6 linked regions of the Homo sapiens genome follow. The protein of the gene in region 1 purifies or fractionates together with the protein of each later gene. This does not show direct contact. Each region holds a gene or a part of one and is shown in the gene's direction. Other genes may lie near its edges. The genes, in order: C11orf58, SLX4, WDR1, KYNU, HMGN5 and CHORDC1.

Region 1 (4,240 bases):
CCCGGGTTCAAGCGATTCTCCTGCCTCAGCCTCCCGAGTAGCTGGGATTAGAGGCATGTGCCATCATGCCAGGCTAATTTTTGTATTTTTAGTAGAGACGTGGTTTCACCATGTTGATCAGGCTGGTCTCGAACTCCTGACCTCGTGATCCACCCGCCTCAGCCTCCCAAAATGCTGGGGATTACAGGCCTGAGCCATGGCGCCAGGCCTAATTTTTGCTTAAAAAAAAAAAAAATCACATTTGTATTCAAGGTGAGAAAGCTTCAGAATTATTAAGGACAAGGATTCTGACAGAAAGTTAAGTTCAGACCTGGTTACAAATTCAGACACCTTAATAAAGTAGGAGATAGTCTTCAGTATCTGAACAATAAATAGCTTTAAATGCAGGGCTTTTTGAGTAGAGGAGTGATCACTTGAATCTGGAGAGAGGGCGAGAAATGGGGAGGGATTGCTAACGGGCATTGGGGTTCCTTTTGGAGTGGTGAAACTTCTTGGAATCAGAGGTGACAGCTGCACACGATTGTGAATGTACTAAGTGACAGTGGATTGTACACTTTTTAAAAAATGGTTAATTTTATATGTGAATTTAACCTCAATAATTACTTTTTTTAAAAAAGAAAAAAAATAGAGGCTTTTGTGGCAGGGATGGACTTTGCTTGGTGAAGGCCCCTACTGTAACGGTGCCCAGACATCCACAGCGAGGTCAGTGAGGAGCACTCCCACCTCACACAAAGCCATATGAAAACTTAACAGATTTCCCTCAGCTAAATCCCCGTTTTCAACAACCGCCAATTAGCCAACATTTAACAACATACTGAACTCATTTCTGTATGGGAAAACAGCGAAATATTCATGAAAACATTTAGAAAGCAGCATCACCGACCACCTAGAAATCCCCTGCGCGCAATAGAGAACACCAGGGTGGAAATGGTAGAAGCCATTTTTGGTTAAGGTTTTTGTCCTGGGTGGAGGGTATTCGTGAGGATTCAGTCAGCCTCAAACATTACATTTAAACATAGGTGCCTAGCTACGATGATACATTTGCCAGTAGGGCAGCGTTGCACGGTGAAAGGCAAAAACCCCTCTAAGCCTCCTCCTGTGGCGACAAAGCTCTCGGCCAACGCTCACCGCCATACACATCCGCGGGAACGCTTCCTCCACCAGCCGAAGGCGGGGCCTCTGAGGGCACTCCCGCCACACAGCGCGAATTGAGCCTCGGGGCTTCCTGGGAATTGTAGTTTTAGTCACGGACACATCTTTTTTATTCGGGCCAGTATGCAATGAATCAGAAAACTACAACTCCCAAAGTGCCCCGGGGCGGCGAGGGGCCGCAACGGTGACGACTGTGGCAGAGAAGGCCCGGAGGGGCTCTGCGTTCTGTAGTGGCGCTGCTTGGGCCCTTGGCGGATTGTAAGCTGCTGGTTTTGCGGCTGGGAAGAGCGGCGAGAGGGTTCGGCATTTTTCGTCGGGATCCCCGCAAGGATGAGTGCTGCCAGAGAGTCTCACCCGCATGGGGTGAAGCGTTCAGCCTCCCCAGACGACGATGTAAATAATAATGGCGGAGTGGCTGAGGGTTGAGGCCTACTAAAGCCTGGAGTAGGCCGGGAAGGGTGGTTGGAGGAGGACGCGCCTGAGGTGGCCTGCAGCGGGAGAGCCCAGGGAAGAAACCAGAAGAATGAGTGGGAAATGCCTCCCTTAATCTTTATGAGGGTCAGAAGGTTTGAAGAGGCCCACACGCTGAGAGCCGGAGACCTGCGTAGGAAGGGGGATTGAGGAAGGAAATTCTGAGAGGGTCGAGGAGTGAAAGAGCTTAGTCAAGGGATTTCGTACGTGCGTTTTGGGGGGCCGATGAGAGTGCTTTCTCGGGCCTTTGTACTCAGTATAGAGACGGCAAGACTCTCCCTGTTTTGGGTTCTAAATGTTCCCGTGACAATGTCGAAATGTTCGTGCACGTTTGTACAGATTTTTCCTGCCTGGATGATTTTTACAATGTGCTGTTGAGAGTTAACTTTAGCTGCACTAGTAAGGGTAAACCGAGAACAGTATTGAGCCGAAAATTGTGCCACGGGTGTAATTTGGTACTGGCTCTGGTGGTGAGGTCTAAGACGTTGAGACCTAGAAGCCCATTTTGATGTCGGATATTAATACCTCGTTCTTCTTACCTCGTCTCCCCATCAAATGCCGTTCCCTTCCTCAGCCCTCACCTCATAGGTTTTAATAGCAAACGGTTTATCCCTTAAAGTAACCCGTTAAATATTTACTGCACTGCCGGGTGTTGGGAATTCGGAGAGAAATATGATGCTTATTTTAGGCCTTTTTGTATATTTGTCCTAGCTCCTAGCCCAGTGTCATGGAAACGGTAGGTAACCAGTAAACGTAAAACTAGGTCCTTCATACAATGGATAAGTGTCTTGGCAACGTTGATGGGGAAAATTGTTGGAGAGAGCGCGGAGAGGTCATCTTTAAGGAAGATGAAGGGATATCTAGGTTTTTTTTCGGTTTTGTTTAAAGTACTGTCAATTTCTGAATACATAGAGCTTTAAATTTTTCGATAGTGCATTTCAACGCTCTTCATAAAATTTTAAAAGCCCACTGAATACTACTTTGTAGCAAATGAGATAATGTTAAGACCTACCCCTCTGATGGGAGGTGGGGCGAGGACCGGAATATTAAGGATCTTTAAAGGAATCGACTTCAGCTCTGCAGAAAGATTAGCAATCAGTAAAGATTTGGGGATGAATGGGCACCTAGAGAAGTTTATTCTTGCTCTCTGTTATTTCTGCTACTGGATTTTAGATCTTGTTAATATGGTAATTCAGGTTTTGTCAGGAATTGATCCACACTTTTGAGTAACCTGGCTGCCACTTAAAAAGCTGTTACATTGTTTTCCTCCTGATCTTTAAATGTGACTTGATTGCTAGGATATCAGACACCTGTTTGGAAATATCTTTTAGCGTGACAGAAAACTCCAGGTGATATGAAATTTAACAAAGTTAAAGGGATTAAGTCATTAAGTTTACAGCTTCGGAAGAGGTCGGTTTAAACTAGACGACCTTGAAGACCTTTCCCAATCATATAAGCGTATCTTTAAGTACCTGGGTTTTGTTTTTGTTTTGAGACAGGTGAGACAGGGTCTCTGTCGCCCAGGCTGGAGTGCAGTGGCACGATCGATCAGTGCTCCCTGCAGCCTCCACCTCCCTGGCTCAGGTGATCCTCCTGCTTCAACCCCCTCTTCCCCCACCACCACTACAGTAGCTCGGACTACAGGTGTGCACCATTACACCCGACTAATTTTTTGTATTTTTAGTAGAGACCAGATTTTGCCACATTGCCCAGGCTGGTCTCCAACTACTAGACCCAAGCGATCTGCCCACCTCGGCCTCCCAAAGTGCTGGAATTACAGGTGTGAGCCACCTCGCCCAGCCAGTACTTAAAAAAAAAATTTTTTTAACCATAAGTAATGCATTCATTAAAATACCTCCAAGCTGTTGCAGAAAAAAAAAAAAAAACTAGCAGGCCGGGCGCGGTGGCTCACTCCTGTAATCCCAACACTTTGGGAGGCCAAGGCAGGCGGATCACGAGGTCAGGAGATCCAAACCATCCTGGCTAACACAGTGAAACCCCGCCTCTACTAAAAAAATACAAAAAAATTAACCGGGCGTGGTAGCGGGCGCCTGTAGTCCCAGCTACTAGGGAGGCTGAGGCAGGAGAATGGCGTGAACCCGGGAGGCGGAGCTTGCAGTGAGCCAAGATGGCGCCACTGCACTCCAGCCTGGGCGACAGAGCGAGACTCTGTTTAAAAAAAAAAAAAAAAAAATCTAGTTATAATATATAGTTGGGAAACAGTTTCTAATGAGCATCCACGGTATGTGAGAGATCATTGAAGTTTTCTTATGCCCATTGACCTCACATCTAATTGAGGTAACAAAACATTTTTTTACTATTAAAAGTAGATACTAAATCACAATACAACTCTAGAAAAACGCTAACAATGTAGGAGTAAATTCTAAGAGTCACCAGGTTATGTATTGAGGAGGTAAATTGATTGCAGTTCTGTAGTAAAGGGTATTAAGGATGAAAACAACTTAAAAGTCGTTTCATTGGCTTGGAGTGGAGAAATGAAAGCTATCTTATAGGAAGTGGGAAGAGTGGGGAGGTAAATTTTAGTAACTGCTAAGGAACTCTCTTAAAATGTATAGTGCACCCACGTGCTTTTCAGAATGCAGCATTTGGGCAAGTA
Region 2 (3,665 bases), on another chromosome or scaffold:
TGCCCGGCGGAGGCCTGATTTTTTTTAAAAGAACATTTAACTCTCACATCCACATGACACTGCTCTTCCACTCGGGCACCCGGGGAAGCTGCTGCTGCCACCATCCCTCAGAACTGGGAGCAGCATATCTTTTGTTTATTTTTTATTTTTGGAGACAGGATCTCACTCTGTTGCCCAGGCTGGAGTAGAGTGATGTGATCTTGGCTCACTGTAGCCTCAGCCTCCCGGGCTTAAGCGATCCTACCTCATCCTCCCTAGTAGCTGGGACTACAGGTGACACCACCACGCCTGGCTAATTTTTGTATTTTTTGTAGAGGCGGGGTCTTGCTATGTTGCCCAGGCTGGCCTTGAACTCCTGAGCTCAAACTGTCCTCCTGCCTCAGCCTCCCAAAGTGCTGGGATTGTAGGCGTGAGCCATTGTGCCTGGCTGGCAATGTTTCTTTTGGAATATTCAGAGTAAGCTTAGTTGGCGCCTAGAATAGACACTAACCTCTGATGCTCACAGAAGTCAGGCATCTATGGTTTGTCACACAAGCCATTCGCTGAATGCATTGGGTATCACTCTTTGCTAAGATAGGGAACGTGGAGTGTGGACCAGCTGTGTGGGTGGGTCCTGAGATCCACCTGTTCCTCCGTCAGGTTTGGAGTCCGCCCTCTGCCTAAACGCCAGATGGTTCTGAAGCTGAAGGAGATATTCCAGTACACTCACCAGACCCTGGACTCAGACTCCGAGGACGAGAGCCAGTCCTCACAGCCGCTGTTGCAGGCGCCTCACTGCCAGACCCTCGCCTCCCAGACCTACAAGCCTTCAAGGGCAGGGGTCCATGCCCAGCAGGAGGCCACCACAGGACCTGGGGCCCATAGGCCCAAGGGACCTGCTAAGACCAAGGGCCCCCGACATCAAAGGAAGCATCATGAAAGCATCACACCCCCAAGCAGGTCGCCCACCAAGGAGGCACCTCCAGGCCTCAATGATGACGCCCAGATCCCAGCCTCTCAAGAATCCGTGGCCACCTCTGTGGATGGCAGTGACAGCTCCTTGAGCTCACAGAGGTAACCGGATGGATGCGATGGGGTCAGTGGCCTCATGTATCCTCTGGCCCGTGGGCGTGAGGGTTGGCACGAGTGAGACCTAATGGCCAATCTTCAAAAACCCCCGTCACCTTCTGGGTTTGACCTGTGGGAAAACCAGGTGGGTTTAGGGGGCTGGTTCCCTGACCCCAGCCCTGCGCAGGCCTCCTGGTTCCTGCCCCACATGCTAGACATTTCTGGCTGGGGCAGGATCCCGCTGGCGTAGCCTGCAGGGATCTCTCAGGCCCGTCCTGCCTTGCTGGGGATCGTGCCACAGGCCAGGCTCCATGGGACCCGTAGACACCTTCCTTCCTTTAAAGAGGCTCATGGTCTCAGGGGCTGGAGAGAAAGGGGTTGCACAACGTCCTGGTCTGGCTCTTTTCAGTTCTTCCTCCTGTGAGTTTGGAGCGGCATTTGAGTCTGCAGGTGAAGAGGAGGGCGAGGGGGAGGTCAGTGCCTCGCAGGCAGCCGTGCAGGCGGCGGACACAGACGAGGCGCTGAGGTGCTACATCCGCTCCAAGCCGGCCCTGTACCAGAAGGTGCTGCTGTACCAGCCCTTTGAGCTGCGGGAGCTGCAGGCAGAGCTGAGGCAGAACGGCCTCCGTGTGTCCTCGCGCAGGCTGTTGGACTTCCTGGACACCCACTGTATCACCTTCACCACTGCCGCCACCCGCAGGGAGAAGCTCCAGGGCAGGAGGCGGCAGCCTCGGGGCAAGAAGAAGGTGGAGCGGAACTGATGGGGCCATCCCGACCCCACCCCAACCTGCCATCAGCAGCCCCCACCCCCGCCATTTGCAGGGAGGACCTGGGACACCCAGCGTGGGTCAGGCCTCCACAGGCATTTCTGGGCCTGGGGACCACATCAGCTCTGCGCTGTGATGATGACCACAGCCCAATCCAGGGCTTCCTCCTCTGGGCTCTGCTTTCTAGGGTGGCATTTGGAGCATGTCACCCACTGGATTTACAGACTCCAGCCCCTTCCTCTGTCCGTGCTCACAGTGTGTCTCCCTTTTTGGTTTTCTTTTTTTTTTTCTTTTTGAGACAGTCGTGCTGTGTCACCTAGGCTGGAGTGCAGTGGCACAATCTCGGCTCACTGCAACCTCCGCCTCCCGGGTTCAAGCAATTCTCCTGCCTCAGCCTCCCAGATAGCTGGGACTACAGGCACACGCTGCCACGCCCAGCTGATTTTTTATATTTTAGTAGAAACGGGGTTTCACCATGTTGCTCAGGCTGGTCACAAACTCCAGAGCTCAGGCAATCCGCCTGCTGCGGCCTCCCAAAGTGCTGGGATCACAGGCGCCAGCCACTGCGCCCGGCCCAGTGTGTCTCCCTTAACCCAAGAGGGCCCTCAGCTGTCCCAGGGGGCAGTGGGCCATCACCAGCTGGCCAGGGCATGGCCTATTCTGCCACATTTGCCACCCTCTGAGCCCACCAGTCCTGGGCACAGCTGCCCTACATGTCTGTCCTGAGATGGACGTCAGGTCCAGCCTGCCCCGGCAGCCCGGGCCCGTCCTCCTCAGCACTCAGGCCAACCCCAGCCACCGCCAGCCTGAGACCAGGTGTCCTGAGGCTCCCTGCACTGCCACAGCCCAGATGCAGTTCTCCTGACCCAGCCGTGCTACCCGGACACTTGTCATTGTTACCAGCAGTCTCCAAACTGGACAGTGCACAAGGGCCCAGAACAACTCTGATGCCACCACAAAACAAACATGTTCACTAGCGGATTCCATTCTTTGGGTTAAAGCTGCCTCCAGCCTCAGGAGCAGTGTGGAGGAAGATGAGGGCCAGGAAAGAAGGAAACCTTGGTTTCTCCATCCTTGTGAATGTCCTCGTCTGTTTCAAATACAGTGCAGTCAGTTTTATATGATGTGCAATAAACCAAAAAGGCTTTATTAAAATCTGGCTGCCACACTCCAGGGAGACCACGAGCGAAACGGGGGACCTGGAGGCACCGTGGCCCCTCAGCCCGTGCCCCACGCCTGCAGAAGTCCCCACCTTGCACCTGCCCTTTACTTTGGAGTAACCTGGGCCTGCTGTCTCCTCATTTCAGTTCCCAGACCAGAGATGCAGATGTTCATCCATTAATCCACACACCCGTATCCAACAGAGCCCTGGCTGGGTGCCAAGCTCCAGCCCCCGCACCTCAAAGTGGGGCCCAAGCACCCCCAGCTGCTGCCTCAGCCGGGAGTTGCTACAAAAGCAGATTCAGGCCCCACCCCACAACTCACCAAGACAGCACATGCCTTTACCATTGCGTCCGGTCCAGTGGAGGAGACAGACGCTGGCCTATCCCAGCCTGGTGGGGAGTCGGGCTCCAGTGGCTTGAAGGGCCGTGTCAGGGACAGCCTCCCAGAAGAGGGGTTTGTGAGCTGCATCTTAGGGCTCAGCAGCATTTAGGGGGTGAAATGTGATTTCTGGCGCACATACTATGTCCTGGCACGTGAACCAGCGGAGAGGCCCAGGCCTCCCAGCTTACGGTGCCCGGGGCGAACAATTTGAGAGGCTGAGATCAGCTGTGATCAATCTGAGGCTGGCCTCTGGCCTGTTTCGGAAGGCATCACGCACTGCTTCCTTGATGGGCTGATCCCCCTCCC
Region 3 (2,682 bases), on another chromosome or scaffold:
CCGTGCTCTCTGTCCTTGGTATCTGGGTGATTTGGGGACAGTGTGAGCTGTGTGAGTACCGGGGCTGTCTCAGGGAAGGCGAGGGGTCAGGGGAAGGATGGGGGCAGTCGGGGCGTGGGACCTGCTCTGGGGCCCAGCCACGCCATCTCCTGCCACCCAGGGCTGGAGCCTTCCCCTCCCCTCCTCGGCACTTCCCCCACCTCACTGCCCGGGTGCCCACAAGACTGTGGACAGTGAGGTAGAGGGAGTGCCGAGGAGGGCACAGCTGTGCCTCAGAGCCAGCCCCATGAGTGGCGGCAGGAGGGGAGCGCAAGAGGGTAGCAGGTCAGGAAATCAAGGAATGGCATCCCCTGGGGCTGGGCTCGGCTCACAGGTTGAAGGAAGAGTGACAGAAGTTTCCCAGCATCTTCAAGGTGCGGTACTAACCAGACATTTTACAGTTTCCCTTGAGTTCTGCCTCGGCATAATTCTCATGCCCTTGAATTTGTGTGTGTGGTCTGGTCACAGTGTGCCTGGCCAAGTCCTGAGTGCTCTGTAGAAGAGCTCATTTCCCCTCTCCAGCCCAGGAGGGCAGCCCTCTGATAACCCAGTCCTGCAGCAGGCGTGGCAGTGCCCTCCATGCTAGGGGCTGGGTGGGTCTATGTGCTGCCAGGTCCTTCAGGTGCCGGATGTGACCAGGGCATGGAGTGGCTTCCTCCACCAGCCAGCTTGAGGGCCTCATGAGACCAGCGGTGCCCCGAGGTACCAACAGCTGTTTTCATAGAGCTGCGTAGGTTTCAGGCCCATCCACGGGAAGAGCCATGCCCAGCTCCTGGCATGGGCCCAGCAGAGCAGCAGTCAGTGGGAACGGCACAGTTTCTTAAGCCCTCGACCCCCCCTTCACAAAGGATGGGTGTGGTGTGTGTGTTCAGGGGTGGCTCACTTCCTCTCTGTCCCTGCCGTAGGACGGCAACGTCCGCCTGTATTCCATCCTGGGCACCACGCTGAAGGATGAGGGCAAGCTCCTAGAGGCCAAGGGCCCCGTGACCGACGTGGCCTACTCCCACGACGGCGCCTTCCTCGCGGTGTGCGACGCCAGCAAGGTGGTCACAGTGTTCAGCGTTGCTGACGGCTACTCGGTGAGTGGCGGCGGGCTCCTCCTCTGTCCCCGTGCTGGGCGGTGCAGGTGGCAGTGGGAGGTTATCTGTGACTTGGTGACCTTGAGCTGAGCCTGTCTGAGCTGTAGTTTTCTTGCCTCTACAAGTAGCAGGTGCCTCGTGCCATGCTTCTGAGGAGTCAGTGGGTTTGCAGGGGTCGCTGGCATAGAGTTAGCGCGTGAGAAACCTCGGTCCTTATTGTCGCCATGAGGGATAAGCGAGGTGATATGGGCAACTGCGGCCTGAACCTGACCTGCCACCTCTCTTGTTTTCAACCTGCAACTAGGAGAACAATGTTTTTTATGGACACCATGCAAAAATCGTCTGCCTGGCCTGGTCCCCAGACAATGAACACTTTGCCTCCGGTGGCATGGACATGATGGTGTATGTTTGGACCCTGAGTGACCCGGAAACCAGAGTCAAGATCCAAGGTGACTTCCGCCCCCAGGCCTTGGCAGGGACCACCCATGGTTCGGGGCTCCATGGGCCACCTCACAGGCTGTCCCCTGGCTTCAGTCCCCAGGGCTAAGTAGCCTCTGTGCTTCTAGACAGGTGGCCCGGAAGAGTTGTGGGTCTCCTTCCATCCAGCAAACACCAGCTGCGCTGCTGGCCGTACTGAGGGACCACGGGGGCCCCATGCACAGGACACCTGCTGAGCTGAGTGAAGGCCTCACTTTTGACATCTTCACTTCCCCCACTCACCCCTTAAATCCCACCTGGGACCAGGGTCTCCCCCTCCCTAAGACAGCCACGTCCAGTGTATAATGTGAGCCTCATGTGGCGTTGAAATTTCCTGGTAGCCACATTTAAAAAAGAAACAGGTGAAATGATTTGTAACAGTAGGTTTTATTTAGCCCCGCATGTCATCATTTCTCCCTGAGGGGGTTGTGATGTCCCCGCGTGGCCATGCACGTATTGTAAGGCAGCTCTGTGTTGTCCAAACCCTCCCCTCCCCGAGTGCCCCCCTACCACTCTCCTCCTAGTGTGTAGTCAAGTCCCCTCATCCATTCTCCTTGAAGACATCCTTTTGTGTTAAACATTAATGGGGCCCTTTCCTATTTAAAAATGTCTGAGCCCACCCCCAGAGCCCATTCCCCAGCTGCAGGCTTCAGGTGCAGGACAGGCAAAGAGGGAAGGCAGCCCGGTCTGGAAGGGAGGAGAGACAAAGCAGGTTTCAACGTCCGTCCTGGTTTATAAGGCAATCGCCAGTCTGGTAGTGAGAATCAAACAAGTTCATGAATGAAATGGATCCAGAAAAAAATACAGCAAGAGCTAGTCAGATAGAGATTAGGAGGTCGGGGTCTGTGTCTTCACTGTGAGGTCACAGGCCACCAAACATGAAGTGACCTCAGCATCGGGTTCTCGTGCAGATAGTTGAGTTCTGCATCTGGAAAAGAGCCAGCCTGGTGATGTGGACAGAGTGCTAAAGCCTGGCCTCACAGCCAAGTCATGCTTGGTGGTTGAAGGCGCTCCTGGGCACCTGTGCCACCCGCAGGCCAAGGCTTCCTTCATCAGGATGTATGCCGTGCCAGGCAGGGGTGGGGGC
Region 4 (4,287 bases), on another chromosome or scaffold:
GCTCTCTAAATCTATAGTCAGTCTTTAAAAGAGTGACACAAAAATGACACAGATCCGCCCTCTGGTTCGCTCCCCATATATTAGAGCCTGGTAATCTTCCAAAGTTTTTACAGCATGAGGCATACACAGAATAGATGCAAAAAAAGTACACCTTCTGAAATTTCCTGAATGGATTCAAACTTTTACTATTCTAAGTTAATCAATTGGTAGTCTACTTACTTTATAGGATTATTGTAAGGATAGGATCAATGAAGTGAAATATATTTTATTTTCACTGGTCAATTACTCGTATTAAAGCAATTTCATGCACTTTATCTCCCTCTCTTGGAAACTGGAGAGTAGTACTTTTTGTCTGGTTACTTAAGATTAAAAAAAAGACAATATGTCACTTTTGACTTGAGTGTCATGGTATCTATGGCCTTCAACCTGCATGGTTTTATCGTTTCAGTAATCTTGGGAGGAAGGTATTATTAAGTTCATTTGATAAATAGGAGACTGAGCCTCCACAAGGGTTAAGTGAATTGCTCAGGGTTATACAATGAACACTTGATAGAAATGATTAAATGACACTTTACTTGATTTGTTGTGGGTTACTAAATAAAGCATAGGTGTGCATAAGTCATTCAATTATTCAAGCACATTCTTCATCCCTAGTCCTAATATCGAAAGTCTTTGCTCTTAGTTTTTATAACTACAAGGATATTCATCAAAAGACCCAAGCTCAGGAATAAGCCTAAAGAGGTAGTCAGACTAGAACAAAAGACAATTCACAGACTTAAATGAATAATTTGCATTAATGAAGTTTGCCAGGCTAGTTTCCACTTGAATCTTCAGATCTTTCTTCCTTCATTGTCTTGTTAACTGTCCAGATTTATTACCTAGGAGTTTTTGAAAACTCACATATTAGGCAATAGAGTGTATTCTGGAATTGAGAGCCTATTTTAAACTTTTGACTAAAAAGTTTACCCATTAAATGTCATAGATTCAACCATCAGACTGAAAATCCTCAGTGTATTTGAAGGAGGGTATTGTCTCAAAAATCCAGAGCTCAAAGTGAAGAAGAAAGGCAAAATTTGGAATTTAGCTCTAAGACCAACTCATCAGTTCAGGGGTCAGAGATTTATATAGTTAAAGGACAAGTGTGTGTTTACCTGAGTTTAAAGAGCAAAGTTGCCTCTGGAAAGAAGCCCTCACTGGAGGCTCTGGCATTTGAAATGGTGGGCAGGAGCACATGTTGCTTAAATTTCTGACAGTGGCTGGAGATTACCGATTGGTTAGGGGAGAGGAAGTAAAGTAAAATATTTATAAATTCTCCACTGGGTGGAGTCTGAGCAGTTCTTTGAATTTCTCACCCTAAGATCTGGCCTGTACATTTTCAAGGAATTCTTGAGAGGTTCTTGGAGAGATTCTGGGAGCCAAACACTCCATTGGGATCCTAGCTGGTAAGCTTGAGGCGCTGATAAAAACTCTCTACCCTAATGTTTACTCCATGTTTTTTCCAAATGAAACTTCTGTCAGCTAGAATCCTTGTCATAGTGTTTTAGAGGTTTTTTTCTGCTACTCTCTTCTTTTTTTATATATATTCTTTTTGTAAATAAAAATGGTATGACCTTCCTAAAGGCCCCACCTTTAGAAATGGGTTAAATGAAAAGATCTTTACTAATGTAATAGAAAAGAACTGATGAACATAGTGCACTGAATATGGTTACATTTGACAAACCAAAGTTAGTCCTGTTCTTATTTGAGTTTAAGCGGTAAGATTAGGTCAAACTCCAGACGAGGGAAAGATATTCTTAAACAGATTTTAAGTCCTCTGTTTTCTGGTAACTTTAATTGTCTTATGCTGCTAGTAGTCATATTAAATATTTATTTAGAGAAGTGAAAATGCCTACTCTTGAACAGAGTTTCTTCCCCTTTCATTTTATGAAACCTAAGAAAAGAAAGTTGATACACTTTTTAAAAATATACTAGATTTTCTTTTTTCCTTTCTGCTTTTATTTTGAGGCCAGTGGGGTGTTATTTAGTAGTAACACTGAAGCAAATGTATTGATTTTCTTAACGTGTTCAGCAAGTAATTCATATCCTAGATATGAAATATACACTCGTAGCAGAGTAATGTTACCCATTTCTCAATGATATGCTTAAAGAATCTTGCTCAATATGCATATTGTTTTTCCTTTTTTCTTTACTAATGAAAAACTACACGCTTTCTCAACATATTTTTAAGTCAGGTTCTAAACTTTGAACTCCTATGTACAATTTGCTTATTTCAGGCATGAATGTGAAACTGTGTAAAGATTAACTACCAGACACTCAGTCATTTATTTAACTATTTAGCCCTAAATCAGTGGGTGACTAGGAGATTCTGAATTCTGTGATTTCGTTAAAATCAATCAGTTTTTAATTATTATACAAGCTTTTTACTTTAAAGTTGTAGCTGTCTAAATAAAATTGTGAAAGCACAATTTCCAAACCTAAATCGAAGGCACATTGATGCTGTCCATCAGAAGGTATTGATAATTTAAAAAAATATTACAAACTATCTTTTATCTTTTTATAAAGGACCTAATGTCATTTGAGCTTAACCATAATCCTTTGAAGAAAGTAAAATTTAACTTTAAATAACATTGACATACAGAGCAGTTAGGTGATTTGTCTGAGACCATATGGTATGTATGTCCCCCGTCTTGATAAAATTAACACTAAATATGTAACATTTGAAAATTTGTAAAATATGTAAAAGTTGAAGTTTTTAAAAGTTTGGATTTAAGTTCTTCCTTTCAGAATATGAGCATGTCACTTTATTTGCAAACTAAACATGGCATAACATTATGGCTTGTGAACACTAATTGTCTTAGCTGCTGGGGTGAATGCAGAATTAAGCAGCAATTAGTATGAGTGAATAAATTGCATCCTTAGAGTGAGTGCACTATGCTATTCTGGGAACTAAAGACTATATTTGAGACCATGCGAAGTTGTGCAAGTGGTGGAGTAGGGCAGGGTGCAGTCATTTGGAAGACTATGCCCATCAGGTATCTCAAGGTACCCCAGATGTGACAGGCCCAGGAGCGGAACCAGCCACTTTAACTTTTGCCTGGCTGAAACTGGACTGGGAAGGATGGATTAAAAAGGTAAATCAATTCATACGTAGCTTGTGGTCCTTTGCAGCTTAAGTGTAGGACTGAAAAAAGAAGCCAAAGAAAAAGGGAATGAGCTGAAGAAATACACACACGTACACACACACATCAGGAAGCAACAGGCAAGGAAAAATAAAGTGAGAGGTTCAAGGCTTCGAGGAGGAATTGAGCTCTGTGCATTCCATTCATGGGCTTTGCCAAAGACCAGCACAATGGACTCAGCATCTCAGGCATGGTTAAGTACCCTACTGTGCACTCTGCTATCCTTTTAGTCCACTGGTTTCTACTCTGTCTGTGCCAGGTTTTCATCTCAATATAGAGGAAAAGGATTCTGATGCCTCAGGATTATTACAAGCATTAAATAAGATACAGATAGAATGACGCTAATGAGTATCATTTTTAAAATAAGGAAAGTTGAATTTTATTCAGAATCTGTTGGTAACAAACTAATCTCTTTATTTAAGTAACCCCACTTAGAGTTTAAAGTCACCTCCAATCAACTCAAAGGGCTGACCTCCCAAAGAAAGTCTCAAATATAAGGCAAGCTCTCTTGATTCTGAATTTCATTAGAAATGTTTGTCTAAGTCTTTCTCATATGGTCAGAATGAGAGAGGGTGCCCTTCTAGTAATATGTCATTATGTCAAATAATTCATCAACCAATTTTGTTTATTCTCTCGAACTGCCACTTTGGCGGCAGGGGTACTCTGTCTAAATGAGATGTCTATAAAGATAAATTAAACATGATTCAGGCCCCCAGGTAGAGTTCAGTTCAGTAGGGTAGAACAGCAACTCAGTCCAGCTACCATCAGTAATATGTTTGTAGTAAGACTAATCTGATAGTAAGGCAGAAAAACATCTCATGGAATTTTAGGAATAGCCAAGAAGATGGGTCCCCTGGAGACTTGCACATAGCATGTTGCATGAAGGATTCAGTGACTTGCAAGATGGGCTTGTCTTGTCACCTTTTCAGGAGACATAGCTGTTCAATCCCTTGCCATTGTGTAACTAAGTGACTCTTACTTGCTGCTGGAATCACTTCATGCTTTTCATGCTTTAACAATCAGTGGTTCTGTTTTACTTTGAAAAATGAGTCATTCTATGACAGTATTCCTCCTAGACCCTAGCATTTCATAGCTTCTATCTATGATT
Region 5 (3,500 bases), on another chromosome or scaffold:
ATATTGAAATAAATTTGCTTTTTTTTTCAAAAATAATTTTTGAAATGGCATACAGCTGATCATTTTACTTTGCTTATATTTTGTTCAGTTAGTAATATATTATATTCTATCATATGATACATGTAAACCCCTTGGGTGGGGATTATTTGTTCTGTTTTGTGATTGTCCACAGTGTTTTGACATTTTCACTGGGTAGAGACAAAACAATTTCAGTTGGATAGGCCCATTAAATGTACATGCCTTTGCTATCATATAGTGACAATACTGTTTCCCTGGGAAAACAAAAGGTGAAAACAGTAGTAACCCCAAAGTTGTGCTTTGTAATAAAAGTAGTAACTAACATTTGATAATATTTTACAGTTGGCAAAGTATATAAGATTATATATAATTATATATATAATATATGTAAGATGTATTTGCATATGTTAATTTTAAATGGACACAATTGATTTTGTATGGACTTATATACTCTGGTGTTATGGCTAAAGGCATGTAGAAATAGATATAATCTCAATATTTAGTTTACTGCTAATTGCTTAATACATAAGAATATTGATTGAATTCCTGAAATCATAAAAGGTTAAAGCTATGAGAAACATTAGAGAGCATCTAATCCTATCACTTTGTAGTTGAAGAAAGTATAAACTGTCATTATGTTCATAAATGAAATCCTTTATTAAAAAATATTGCTAAACTTAGGGAAATTGAAGTTTTAGTAATAATTGATATATTTAATGGTGACAAAAGAAAAGAAGGTTTTTTTTTCTGCATTTTACTTTTCAAGTCCACTATTATATAAGGTTAAATATTCAACTTACTAGTTTTTAAAACAGTAAATACAGCATATTTTCTTTTAAAAAGAAAAGTAAGGCCAGACGTGGTGGCTTACACCTGTAATCTGAGTACTCTGGAAGGTTGAGATGGGCAGATTGCTTGAACGTAGGAGTTTGAGACCAGCCTGGGCAACATAGAAAATCACCATCACCACAGAAAATACAAAAATTAGCCGGGCATGCCTGTAGTCCCAGCTGCTTGGGAGGCTGTTGTGGGAGGATTGCTTGAGCCTGGGAGGAGGAGGTTGCAGTGAGCAGAGATTGCCTCACTCCAGCCTGGGCGACAGAGGGAGTCCCTGTCTCAAAAAAAAAAAAAAAAACGGAAAAAAAAGAAAAGAAAAGAAAAATAGGGCTAGACTAAAACATATACTATATAACCATAGACTTTACCCTCCTTGGCTCTGTTTCTCATGTGTTAAAAGAGTAATAACTTATATCTAAATTACAAATTACAGTTTCTAAAGCATTTTTTTCATGTGTTTTCTCATTTTCTCCTTGTAACATCCCCGTGAGGTGGGTGGTATTACTCTCTTTTTATATATGAAAATAACAGCCTCAAAGATACTTATGCCTTTGCTCAAGATCACATCACATAAGTGGCAGATCTAGAATTCAAACACAGGTTTTCCGGCCCCTCAATCCAGTGGTCTTTCTATTACATACACAGGTAGGCAAAAATTTTCTTGGTGAAGTCGTCATGAATCAGGGCATTCCAAACTTGTAGATACAAAGATTGAAACACTTACATCACCATAAGGTCTTTTAAAAATATATCTAAATTGTTGTTCTCACTAACAGCATTTCTCTTAATTATTACCAATGGAGGCGTAACGATCAACAAAACCCTGTTCCTTATTAATTAGACTTGACAGAAATAAACTGACCCTCTCTAGACAGAGGGAATTAATTGATCAGTCTAACCTGATGCCAGCAGTTTGTCCTTGGCAGCAACTAGTCAGCATTCTAACTGGTTGCCTCTCATCTATATCACTCAACTTAAAAGGAAATTTATTTTGTTTATATCAAGGGAACATTGTTCATTTTTAATCCTGCTTTAGGCTTACAATGAAATTTACAATGAAGATATTATATGATAATTTTGTTGATACCAGATTTATATGTGATACTTTAAAGAGTTTGCATAAATTATTACAACAGCTGGTAAAATAATTGTGACCATTTAATCAACACAGCAGTTAAATTGTATATTTACTTTCATTGTTTTATATTGCTTGGCAGAAAATGAAGACAAAAAGTGATATGATGGAAGAAAACATAGATACAAGTGCCCAAGCAGTTGCTGAAACCAAGCAAGAAGCAGTTGTTGAAGAAGACTACAATGAAAATGCTAAAAATGGAGAAGCCAAAATTACAGAGGTATTTTCTAATGTTAACAGTTTTATCTATTTGAAAGTTTAACAATGGGTACAACTGAAAGAAATCCTATTTGCCTTTTAGTTTATAAGTTGGAAAAAAATTAAGTGAGCAGTGGTTCTATAGTATAATGGTATCTAAGAGGAAAATAAAATTAACTTAAAATATGAGAATTTAGAGGGACCAGTAGTGCGAGCAGTGGCTTAGCATTGCTGTTACTAGAACAATGCCAATGATTATGACTTAGTACTAACATAACAACCTTCTTATTAAATACAAGCCAATCTTTATTCCTTTTATCAGCACACAGGCTATTTGTAAATCCCTTTTCCAGAATTTATGATTCTTTTATTTCCTCTGTGGATGGCAAAGCAAATCATTATATAAATGTTTTTAATCTTATTTTGCATATTTAATGCATACAACATTTTTAGGTATTGTAATAAAACACTGAAAATGGGTGTAGCCACCAAATCTATAAACCAAACATATGCAAATATGGAAAATCTTTTGTAAGTTATCTTATAATATCTGGTACAGTACTTTTCAAGTAATTTTTACATAAAAAATATCATTATTATAGAAACAAAATATGTTATTTTCCAAGGACTATATTTTGTTTACATGCATAGTCCTCATTAAGAATTGCTGATACAGAATAAATATATGTCATCCTTTAAGTATTTACTTTGTGCTTCTTCATATTTGAAATAAAAAGTATTTATAAGTGTTTCTGTATTTATTGTTTCAAATATCTATTTGTAGATATTTCCGTGGACATATTTTAGTTAATCTCATTTCTTAGAATGTTTTCTCATAATGTGATATTTAGCAGGCTTCTTTCACAGGAAAATTACTTTCTTTAAATGAAGTATTAGTCTTTCTGTGAAATAGATATAATCCAGTGTAAATATTTAGGGGAAATGGTTCTAAATTTACAGACAGAATCTTGTTTTTCTTTTCACTATACTTACAGGCACCAGCTTCTGAAAAAGAAATTGTGGAAGTAAAAGAAGAAAATATTGAAGATGCCACAGAAAAGGGAGGAGAAAAGAAAGAAGCAGTGGCAGCAGAAGTAAAAAATGAAGAAGAAGATCAGAAAGAAGATGAAGAAGATCAAAACGAAGAGAAAGGGGAAGCTGGAAAAGAAGACAAAGATGAAAAAGGGGAAGAAGATGGAAAAGAGGATAAAAATGGAAATGAGAAAGGAGAAGATGCAAAAGAGAAAGAAGATGGAAAAAAAGGTGAAGACGGAAAAGGAAATGGAGAAGATGGAAAAGAGAAAGGAGAAGA
Region 6 (3,061 bases), about 73 Mb from region 1:
CAGTTTCTTAAAATAGCTTAATTCATTTTTGTCAGTCTTATTTTTATAATCAGTGTTTGATAGCATAAATCTTCAGTTTGAATTAGATCAATTAACTGTGTATATCTTTTTCAGTTAAATGTGCATATTGTATTTGAAGGAGAGAAGGAATTTGATCAAAATGTGAAATTATGGGGTGTAAGTATTACAAATTTATAAGAATTTTTTTTCTGATAACTTAGATCATTTGTAGAATAAAAGACAATTCTTCAGTAAACATTGATGCAAAGTATAGATGTATAACTTAACAGTGTATCCTACCAAAAAGTTTAAGACTAGATATAAAAGAGGCCTTTAGAAGCTTGGATTTGGGATTATTGGCATAAGCAAGTCTGATGTTTTCCTCTGAGACTAATAAAACTACTGAGGTTTCCTGTAATTCTCTTTGATATGTTACAGGTGATTGATGTAAAGCGAAGTTATGTAACTATGACTGCAACAAAGATTGAAATCACTATGAGAAAAGCTGAACCGATGCAGTGGGCAAGCCTTGAACTGCCTGCAGCTAAAAAGCAGGAAAAACAAAAAGATGCCACAACAGATTGAGTGGGAGATGGAAGGAAGGCTATTACATTATTTCCGAATTTTTAATACTGTGTGAAGTGGTGGCTTGCTGCTGTAATCTTTTGTTTTGTTGTTGTGTTACTGAATGTGGCATTTCAGGGTTAACATTAGGTTCTTAAAAGCCAAAGTCAGTTTGTCTTTTTGTGCCTCTCATCTTTCTTTTGTGTTATGTAAGATTGATTATTCATTTCTCCCTACTGGTAGGAACCATAGTTGTGTCCTATACTTGAAGAGGCTGGAAAGTAGCCCATAACCATAATTGCAGTATTTCTTTGTATTTCTCTGTTAAGCAAAGAAATATTAAGGAACATTTTTTTTATGTTTTTGTATTATTCCATAATTAGTAAAGCAAGATGAAATGTCAAATTTTAATCAGTTTTTTCATGGATTTGTGTTCTTACAGTACTTGAAAATATTTAAGGAAGAGATGAAGCTCTGCAGTTTTTTCTATGTGGGATGATTACTTTTTTAAGGAGGATTAATTCTGAGGTAGTATAGTAACTAAAGGGGAATATATGAATTGTTTAACAAATTAGAATTTGTTTACAACTACTTGAATTTTTAAATTATGTCAAAACTTACATTACTTGCCAAGCAGTATGATGTTATAGGAAACATAAATAAGATTACAGAGGTATCAATTTGGTTAAAATTCACCATTTTATAAGACTAAGCAATAATCTTAACAACCTCTTTCCTGAATATTTAAATGTGTTTGTATGGTGTTATGACTAATTGTTACTGATTTAGAGACTAAGCCCTCTTAAAACCTTTAGTTAAATATAAAAAGAAATTATATATATCTTGCCTCCCTGATGGAAAACTATATAAAATTGTAGACTTAAAAGGTTTGTGGAAATACATTAGGATATCAGAAAACTAAATATATGGAGTTGCTTTATGACTATTACATGTTAAATAAAAATAGCTTAATTGTTTTGGAGTTTTTTTTTAAAGTCATGAAGAGCTTCACAATTCTAGTGATACAATGTTGACTATATATTGTACTTTATATTAAATATAGGTAATACAGAATTAGATCGTTTGGATAGGTTTTGAGTTAGTGCAGAACTCAAGAAGAAAAATTAGGAAATATTCTGAAGGCCAGAACTCTGGAAGAACTTAGAAAGTTTGGGAATAAATTAAACTTATGTAGATTTAAAATTAAAAGGGGTTTATTTCCCAAACCCCTTGAGTCTTTTCTTTTCCTTGGTATTTATGGAATTCTTACAAAGAAAAATTTGCAGAAGTACTATTTTCGTGAATAAAACATATGTATCATTCTACTACCATTAGCAAATAACTTAGTTGTAGTTAATATAATTGTTAAAAGGTTTAGCTCTGTTACAAATAAAAACATAAAGATCTGGCAACCAGACTTTCATGATGTTACATTACCATGACAAGAAACTCTGGGCAGTAAAAGTTGGACCCACATGGAGTACATAAGCATCTGATACCTGGAGATGTATTTAAAATTTTTCAAGTTATCTTCCATGATTTAGGAACCATTTAGAGACATGAAGTCTTTATGGGTTGGGGGAAAGGTTGATAATTAGTTTGATTAAAGGTAATGATTAATATCCCTTTTTGTTCATACTTCCTTCTGAGGCTGTTTTCCCCTAAACAGTATCTTAATCTGTTACATGTAATTGAAATATTATTTGAAGCAGTGAGTTATTGTAACCTCAGATTAGTTACATTGATCAAAACATTGATTTATACACACACACACACACATACATATGTAGCTTTTATATTTAGTCTGGTTACATTAGTGACCATGGTATTTACTTTCTTCTTAAGGAGCCTTTGAATTTCTTGTCCAGATAAAAATCCGAATATTTCTCTTAGACTCATACATAAAGGGACACAGTTATCGTTAGGTAGCATATGTTTTACTATCGGTTTGTCAAAAAAGTTAATAAAAAGTGCTTATTGATTTATTTCTCTAGAAATTTGCTTTGTCTTTTTTAGCATTAAAAATAATTACTATAGCAAAGCAGTCAAAGTTAGGTATATTATATATATACTTGGTAACTAAAGATGGGAAACCTAAAATGCTATTTTTCTTTCATAGCACATTTACTAGTATAAAGGAAGTAAGATCCTAATAAACTGAGCCTTTATTTAACTTCTTTGACCTAGTTTTAGGTTTACAGAAAAGTTGTAAAAATACAACAGTTCTTTATGTCTTATATTAATCTTAATGTTAAAATCTTACGTTATCATAGAACATTTATAAAACTTAAGAAATTAACCTTTGTATAATACTATTAACTAAAGTAGAACATTTTATTTTTACCATCTGTTTTTAGTGGAATTCTTCAAGGTCTTAAGACTTGTCCTACTTTTTTGGTAATAATTTAAGCCAGTAATTTATAAACAATTAAGATATGATTAGGAATCAACAAATGTTTATAGGTTGAAGATGTAACTTCTTGGTGTAACTATACTG

Evidence for each region.
Region 2: the proteins of C11orf58 (region 1) and SLX4 purify together in Homo sapiens (co-immunoprecipitation; one large-scale study listed by IntAct). This does not show direct contact.
Region 3: the proteins of C11orf58 (region 1) and WDR1 fractionate together in Homo sapiens (co-fractionation; one large-scale study listed by BioGRID). This does not show direct contact.
Region 4: the proteins of C11orf58 (region 1) and KYNU fractionate together in Homo sapiens (co-fractionation; one large-scale study listed by BioGRID). This does not show direct contact.
Region 5: the proteins of C11orf58 (region 1) and HMGN5 fractionate together in Homo sapiens (co-fractionation; one large-scale study listed by BioGRID). This does not show direct contact.
Region 6: the proteins of C11orf58 (region 1) and CHORDC1 fractionate together in Homo sapiens (co-fractionation; one large-scale study listed by BioGRID). This does not show direct contact.

The regions. Positions count from the first base shown.
Region 1 is NC_000011.10:16,737,297-16,741,536, forward strand, and holds the start of C11orf58 (small acidic protein), read left to right. Parts: upstream 1-1,350; 5' UTR 1,351-1,482; coding exon 1,483-1,545; intron 1,546-2,259; exon of another isoform or gene 2,260-4,240.
Region 2 is NC_000016.10:3,580,485-3,584,149, reverse strand, and holds the end of SLX4 (structure-specific endonuclease subunit SLX4), read left to right. Parts: intron 1-639; coding exon 640-1,053; intron 1,054-1,456; coding exon 1,457-1,808; 3' UTR 1,809-2,969; downstream 2,970-3,665. UniProt on the Homo sapiens protein: Regulatory subunit that interacts with and increases the activity of different structure-specific endonucleases.
Region 3 is NC_000004.12:10,076,189-10,078,870, reverse strand, and holds part of WDR1 (WD repeat-containing protein 1), read left to right. Parts: intron 1-178; exon of another isoform or gene 179-260; intron 261-944; coding exon 945-1,118; intron 1,119-1,422; coding exon 1,423-1,567; intron 1,568-2,682.
Region 4 is NC_000002.12:142,876,295-142,880,581, forward strand, and holds the start of KYNU (kynureninase), read left to right. Parts: upstream 1-1,369; 5' UTR 1,370-1,442; intron 1,443-4,287. UniProt on the Homo sapiens protein: Catalyzes the cleavage of L-kynurenine (L-Kyn) and L-3-hydroxykynurenine (L-3OHKyn) into anthranilic acid (AA) and 3-hydroxyanthranilic acid (3-OHAA), respectively. Has a preference for the L-3-hydroxy form. Also has cysteine-conjugate-beta-lyase activity.
Region 5 is NC_000023.11:81,114,914-81,118,413, reverse strand, and holds part of HMGN5 (high mobility group nucleosome-binding domain-containing protein 5), read left to right. Parts: intron 1-2,072; coding exon 2,073-2,210; intron 2,211-3,183; coding exon 3,184-3,500. UniProt on the Homo sapiens protein: Preferentially binds to euchromatin and modulates cellular transcription by counteracting linker histone-mediated chromatin compaction.
Region 6 is NC_000011.10:90,199,929-90,202,989, reverse strand, and holds the end of CHORDC1 (cysteine and histidine-rich domain-containing protein 1), read left to right. Parts: intron 1-114; coding exon 115-177; intron 178-438; coding exon 439-585; 3' UTR 586-2,561; downstream 2,562-3,061. UniProt on the Homo sapiens protein: Regulates centrosome duplication, probably by inhibiting the kinase activity of ROCK2. Proposed to act as co-chaperone for HSP90. May play a role in the regulation of NOD1 via a HSP90 chaperone complex. In vitro, has intrinsic chaperone activity.